2 linked regions of the Homo sapiens genome follow. The gene in region 1 interacts genetically with each later gene. Each region holds a gene or a part of one and is shown on either strand. Other genes may lie near its edges. The genes, in order: GATB and MRPS21.

The links.
Region 2: changes in GATB (region 1) and MRPS21 together harm fitness less than expected from each alone (positive genetic interaction), as found in Homo sapiens cells (one large-scale study listed by BioGRID).

The regions. Positions count from the first base shown.
Region 1 is NC_000004.12:151,754,452-151,758,273, forward strand, and holds part of GATB (glutamyl-tRNA(Gln) amidotransferase subunit B, mitochondrial isoform 1 precursor), read right to left. Parts: intron 1-3,822. UniProt on the Homo sapiens protein: Allows the formation of correctly charged Gln-tRNA(Gln) through the transamidation of misacylated Glu-tRNA(Gln) in the mitochondria. The reaction takes place in the presence of glutamine and ATP through an activated gamma-phospho-Glu-tRNA(Gln).
Region 2 is NC_000001.11:150,300,133-150,303,954, reverse strand, and holds part of MRPS21 (small ribosomal subunit protein bS21m), read right to left. Parts: intron 1-3,822.

The sequences.
Region 1 (3,822 bases):
TTCATGCTCCATGTGGGCAACACCCATATCTATCGTCTACCAAGTTCAAAACTGTGTCACTAGAGCTACACAAGGGCTAGCATAACGTGGGCATCCAATATATGCCAGCTGAGTGAATGAAGACACAACCGACAGAGAAGAAGAATGAAATGTCTACAGAAAGACTATACATTATAACAATTGTTTTAAGTGACAATCCTAATTTTTTACTAAATCAAGAGCCAATACCATGTTGAACCAAAGAAACACTCCAAATAACTACAGATGGAAAAAAAAAAGCTCATAAGCCTTCTTTTTCGCAATAAAAGTAATGATTTCTAATTCAGAAATAATTTTATCCATATACTAGTTTTTACTGGTTTTCATTATTTACTTAATTCTCTATACATCTCTGAGGTGATGAGATACCCAGGTTAGTTTTTGTTGGCAGATCACTTAACTGGTGAAATCAAGGTTAAGTGACCAATTGTTATGTGTAGCATTTACTTTTGCTCTCACTGGCAACGTAACTGTGCACAATAACTCAGGAGAGCCTTTGTAAAGATAAAAGCCACCAATCATTATGGGTATGCTAGCAGGTAAGATTTACCTTACCTATTATTAAGAGCTTTTTAATTAATTACCTGTTATTACTTGTTAATTATCTGTTAATTAATAAGAGCACTTACTACATGCAATTACTGTTTTAAGTGTTTTAAAGGTACTGATTCATTTAATTCTCACACAAATCCAATGAGTCAATTATCTCCATTTTATAAGAAACTGATGCAAAGAAGATTAAGTAATCTACATGAAAATTCTATTCATCTCACTAGAATTTTTATCTTTAGCATTGTCCTATGTCACTAAAAGTCTATTATAAACATTATCAGTGGCTTCATAATGTTGTACTGTACTGATGTATTATAATTTACTCAATGATTCCCCCATCACTGAGAAACTGTGGTTACTTCCAATTTTCTACCTTTAAAAATAGATCTGCTATAGACATCTCTGCATATAAGTCTTTGCCCACATGTTTATTTTCCAAGGACAGATTCCTAAAAGAATTACTACGTCAATAAACATGTTGGGCGAATAAAGTAGTCAAATTGCCATTTTGCCTAATTAGCTGTTTTTTCTTGCTTTTATGCCTACAAAGTTTCTCCCCAACCCAAGGACAAACAAATATTCTCCTAGATATTTCTGGATTTAATTTGACATTTAACTTATATTATATATATATGAACTTTGTTTTGATGTGTGAAATGAGCGATACTTTTTCTCCAAATAGCTAACCAATTCCAAAACCATCAGTTAAATAACTTATCCTTTTCCCACTGATTTTTGCTTCTTCTTACATATATTTTCCCTTGTTGGTTTATTCTTTCGTCAGGAGGCAGTGAAACTTTGGGGAGAAAAGATAACAGGCTTAACACTGTAACTGCTGAATTTAAGATGTTTATGAATCATTCAGATGGAAATATATAGTAGGACACAATAGATATAGGTTTCTTGCCTAAAAGAGAGAGGGGAGCTTTATTTGAGGGTAAAAAGATTACTCAGGGGAACACAGGTAACAGAAGAATTGAGAGCCAAAGAATAGGGCATGGGAAACCAACATTTCAGGGCTGAGTGGCAGAACACAGCCATGTGAGAAGGCACAATCAGCCAGGTAGAGGGCGGGGAAGAAGCAGGAGAGAAGGGAGCAATATAAGCCCTGCGCAGAAAGAGTTTCAAGTATCATCATGAATCACACTTACACTTTGGTTTACTTGACCAAAACAATAACATAATGTTCTACTAAAATCCTCGGAAGCACAAACATATTCTCAAATTATTGGTTTCTTATGAATGGAGTTATAAGCAGAGTCTGGCTATCAGAGCATGTTTATACATCTCCATAGGGCTTAGGGGAAGGACAACTGTCTAAAGGTTTTAGTGTATTTTAAATCTATTTAGAGGTAAATCAAAAGATTTTGAAATGTTTTGAATGGCAATGCTTAATTCTGGGAGTTTGGGTATAATGTTGCTCACGTACAAAATGAGGTCCCTTAAAGGCAGAAACATTTCTGAAGAAGAGGTAGATCTCCTCTGTCTACAGAATAACCCATCTAGGCTACTTAAACCATAAGCGTTGTAGGCTCTGAAGAGGAAAACAAATCCTAGCTCATACAAAACTGTATTTCCAGACTTTGTCTGCCATTTAATTAATGTAAGCCAAGCTCTCAACACTCAAATGTCCCAAACACCTTCACTGTGTTATTGATATGCTTATCAGTGAACAAGCACCTTCTTTTTTGGTGCATGACAAGTTTTACAAAGCAATTAAAATGTTGGCATTTTAATTATTTTGAATTTTTCTAATTTGGTCTAATTTTTGACCAAATTTAGGTACAGCTGGAGAGTCTATATACAGAAAACATGCTTATCTGCAAATGGACCTGTTTCTAAAGTGAACTGTAATAAGTATGGCCTGATAGCCATCACATTCACAGCTGGAAAAACCTAGGATGAACTCAGAGCTTATGCCTAATCTCTTGATAATTAACTACAACATGGGAAAAAAATGTTTTGAATCTGGAAGGGAAAATGTAGAGGTGTTATGACAACTTGCCTTCCATTTTACAATAAATATTATTGTATCTCTACTATATCTGAATCTCTGCCCAAAAAAGATGTCATATATTTATAACCAAAATATTCACTCTTCTCAAATAAACAAAAAATCTTTCCATAGATAGATCTCTAAGTCAGAGAGAGAGAAAGAGGGCACACCTCCACATCTATCTTCTCCCAGAGGGACCCAGCAGCAAATCAAAGGTGATCCTTGATATGGTCTGCAGGGAAGGGAGTCCTCCATGACAGAAAATGCGATAAGAGAAAAGTTCCAAGACAAAGATGCTGCCCCAATACAACCAAAGCTGAGTGAGGCAGGCATACTGGAGGCACTGCCCAGAATCTTCCACTTTGGTCAGTGACTGAGAAAAGTATACCTCTGCAAGCCTGCCAGTGCTCAGTTCAACCAGCTTCCAGATTTTTTTTTTTTTTTTTTTTTTTGAGATGGAGTCTCGCTCTGTCGCCCAGGCTGGAGTGCAGTGGCGCGATCTCAGCTCACTGCAAGCTCTGCCTCCCAGGTTCACGCCATTCTCCTGCCTCAGCCTCCCCAGTAACTGGGACTACAGGAGCCCACCACCATGCCCGGCTAATTTTTTGCAGTTTACTATTAGTAGAGATGGGGTTTCACCGTGTTAGCCAGGATGGTCTCGATCTCCTGACCTTGTGATTCGCCCACCTTGGCCTTCCAAAGTGCTGGGATTACAGGCGTGAGCCACCGCGCCCGGCCTCAACCAGCTTCCACTCTTATTTAAATGTTTGAGAGCATGGAATTTACCCATGACAATGTCTGCCTCTCCCCACCTTTGTCACCACCATGGATACACATTTCCTCCAAAGATGGCAGGAAACCCCAAACACAGTTGATATTATAGGTCCTGGACAGACCATATGCTATTTATTAGCTAAAACATTTACTTGTTCCCTTCATACTTTTCTTAAAAATTCAACCAATTATATAAAAATATATGCCAAAAGTCTTGCTGATGAGTATACTGGGCCCAGTCATTCCATAGGATCAAGTAAAAATGAGTGGTTAAGTGAGTACAATAGTTAACTCACTGCATATTATGGCTGTTTTCTACATTATTGAGTGTTTCTTAATTTGCAATAACCACAATCATTACTGGCCTTACACTGTAAAATCATGTAATATACACTGCTTGCTTTGAGTTGACTCCTCCTCCTCCTTCATTTATCTGCCTAAATTTTATTGGGCTTCTCAAA
Region 2 (3,822 bases), on another chromosome or scaffold:
GAGATCAAATCTGTATTCACTTTTGCACCTAACAAAATACTTGGCAAAGAACAACTAGGAAATGTATGCCAAAAATGAGTCCTCTAGATGACTAATAAATGTCCATAGCACAAGGGATTAAGTGACCTTACAATATATACAGTTATTGGGGATATAGCTCAGAAAGCCTCAATAGTATTACCTTTACTACGATGGCATATTAGAGTTTAGATAGCATTTTTATATCCATCATCCTAACTACACTCCTATGAAATTGTTTAGGCAAATAATGTCCTCTTTTTATAGATGAGGAAACTGAAGTTCAGAGAGGCTGACCCGCCCAAGATCACAAAATGGAACTATAAACAGAATTCAGGTCTTTAGTAAAGTGCTCTACAACAGTATTCTGCTTCTCAAACAAAAACCACCCATTTCAGAAGACAAACTGTTGCAGTATCCATGGGTAAAAGAGGGAGTGAAGAGCTGGGCTAGACTCTTCAATCAGAGTAAAGAGGAAATGGAAGCCGATAAGGGACACTTGGATAAAAGAATGATCTAAACATGTAAACATTTATTTCTGCTGAGACTTTGTGTTTAATACTGTCTAATGAAGGTTGCTTTTTGGACTAGAAAGTAGTATATTGGAGAAAATATAGAAAAAAGCCCCTGAAAGAAAAAGATTGGATATATAATGTAAAAAGTACAAGGAGACTGGATTTGAGAGAATATAAAAACGACAGAGACCCTGAGTAAATATGACCTAGGAAGACGAACCTATTGGAATGACAAAGACAGTTTAAAAGTAGGATGAAACAACACTGCAAGAGGAGGAAGGGGTTGAGTATGACTCAAGGAACCCTACTGGAGTTCCAAAAGGCTTCTAAAACAAAGGTGATCATCTTACCAAGGAAATGCCTGTACTGTCAGGCAAAAGGGCAAGACAAGGAAAAAGAATAACAAAAGAACATAAGAATGGTGAAGGGAAAAGAAAGAATATAATGATGGGGGTTGGTAAATGGCATTCCCTGGATGTACTACTTACTTCCAAAACACAGACCAAATAAATTCCAAGATGCCAGGTGAGGATTCCCTCCCTTACCCGACACGTTCTAGTCATACTAAAAAAGGCACAGATTATCTTCAAATGCCCCAGAGTCCCTATAGTAGAGGTATCTACTCAACTTTACCTCTAACAGAAAAGGATGCAAGAAAAGCTTTGTAAAACACAAGAATAGAGGGGGTGTTACTAATGATGCTTCCTTCTGCTTCCAAAAGTAGTTCAAGGACTAGTACATCAAGAGCTTTAGAGTAAACAGATCAGCCTGGAGTTCGGGCGCCTGGCAACCTAATACTGAAGGAGAAACCAGCTGCCAGTTTTAGTGAAATTCAAATGATTATGTAAAAGGAGCCAAGCTGCCTGGAGCGGGGGGAGGTGCGGGTGGCAGACTCACATGTCAGTGTAGCCAGTCTACGTCAGGACAGACGTGTATGCAGAAGGACTCAATGGACCCAGAAGGTAGCCCACTAGGAGTAAAAGGAGTCAACAGGGCATGCTTCCAGTGTACTCACCTTTCTTTGCTTGGGGGCCAGCCAATCATGCAGGGCTTCCTAGCAACCCCCACTCTCCACCTTCTCATCCCGGGGCACCAATGAGGGCCCCCAGTTATATAACAGGCATTTTGTGGTGGCCTCACTGGACAGACACGTAGGCTATTTCCTTTGTAAGACTCTCTCTGTACTCCAAACATGGTAAAGCTTTAATCACCTCCCTCTAGACTCATTTGCTCTCCTACCTATTGTTGTAATTAGACCACAGAACAAGCAAATTATTTTTAAACTACCAGCTATGAGAAAGCTGAAAGAGATCAGGAGAGGCCTGGAGTGTGAGAAAGATATACAGAAAAAGTGGCTAGAGAGAGGACATTTGGGAAAAGCAGAGAAAAAGAAGAAACAGAAAAGTGCATCAGTCAGAAAATGTGTTTAACAGGCAGCAGGAAAACAGAAGATTGGATCACTCCAAAATCAGTCTGCTCACGTATGCAAGCTTGAAAGTCCTTACCTAGAAAATTATTCTAAGAGGCCGGGCACGGTGGCTCACCCCTGTAATCCCAGCGCTTTGGGAGGCCGGGCGGGCCAATCATGAGGTCAGGAGTTTGAGACCAGCCTGGCCAACATCGTGAAACCCCGTCTCTACTACAAAAAATTAGCCGGACGTGGTGGCAGGTGCCTGTAATCCCAGCTACTCGGGAGGCTGAGGCAGGAGAATCACTTGAACCCGGGAGACAGAGGTTGCAGTGAGGCGAGACCACGCAGTCTGGGCAACAGAGAGAGACTCCGTATTAAAAAAAAAAGAAAGGAAAAAGAAAATTATTCTAAGACTGAAATATTTGTTCATTTCCCCCCTGCCCCGCGAAGCTATAATACAATTTATGGGACTCTGAGTCTATGGGACTTGAATTTCTTTTCCTTTTTTGAGACGAAGTCTCGCTCTCGTCCCCCAGGCTGGAGTGCAATGAATGGCGCGATCTCGGCTCACTGGAACCTCCGCCTCCTGGGTTCAAGCGATTCTCCTGCCTCAGCCTCCTGAGTAGCTGGGATTACAGGCACCTGCCACCATGTCCGGCTAATTTTTTTTCTTTTGAGACGAAGTCTCGCTCTCGTCCCCCAGGTTGGAGTGCAATGGCGCCATCTTGGCTCACTGCAAGCTCCGCCTCCCGGGTTCACGTCATTCTCCTGCCTCAGCCTCCCGAGTAGCTGGGACTATAGGCGCCCGCCACGGCGCCCAGCTAATTTTTTGTATTTTTAGTAGAGACGGGGTTTCACTGTGTTAGCCAGGATGGTCTCGATCTCCTGACCTCGTGATCCGCCCCCCTCAGCCTCCCAAAGTGCTGGGATTACAGGCATGAGCCACCGCGCCCGGCCAATTTTTGTATTTTTTTTAGTAGAGACAGGGTTTCATCATGTTGGCCAGGCTGGTCTTGAACTCCTGACCTCAGATGATCCACCCGCCTCGGCCTCCCAAAGTGCTGAGCTTACAGGGGTGAGCCACCGCGCCTGGCCAAATTTATTTTTCTAACCACTCCTCTTCTTTCTTAAAAAGAAAAGAATATAATTCTTTTCTTTTTAAGCAATGTAAATTGCTTTTTTCCAAATCCTACTCCTACTTTGGTGTTTTAATCCCTGAAGAAAAGGTAATACTGTGCTTCTTAACCAGGGTAATTAACAGAATGCCAAAGGATACAAGTTTCTGGACAAATTTGATGCATCTGCCTGGAGGCACCAATTTTAACTCGAAGGAGTGGGGGTGTTACCCATAAAACAGATGCAATGGCAACGAATACGAAGTTCACCTTACATTTTAATTTAGGGAAGCTTCAAAGAAATTCCATGTTTGCTTATAGTAGCAGAACCCCTATAGTTCATTCACTCTCCTCTGCTGTTAACGACACTTCAGTAAAAAAGTTTGACAAACATTAAATAAGTGACAAAAAAGATAAAGGAACATTTATGTTCATTAAGTAGACATTTAATGAGAGCTTTGGATGTGCCAGACACTTTGGTAAATCCAAGAGATACACAAATGAAAAAGCATAGGTTTCTGTCCTTAAGGAGGCTACAAGCCTTTTTTTTTTTGAGACAGGGTCTCACTTTGTCACCCAGGCTGGAGTGCAGTGGCGCGATCTCGGCTCACTGCAACCTCCAGCTCCCAGGTTCAAGCGATTCTCCTGCCTCAGCCTCCCGAATAGCTGGGATTACAGGTATGCACCATCATACCCGGCTAATTTTTATATTTTTAGTAGAGACGGGGTTTTACCATGTTGGCCAGGCTGGTCTTGAACTCCT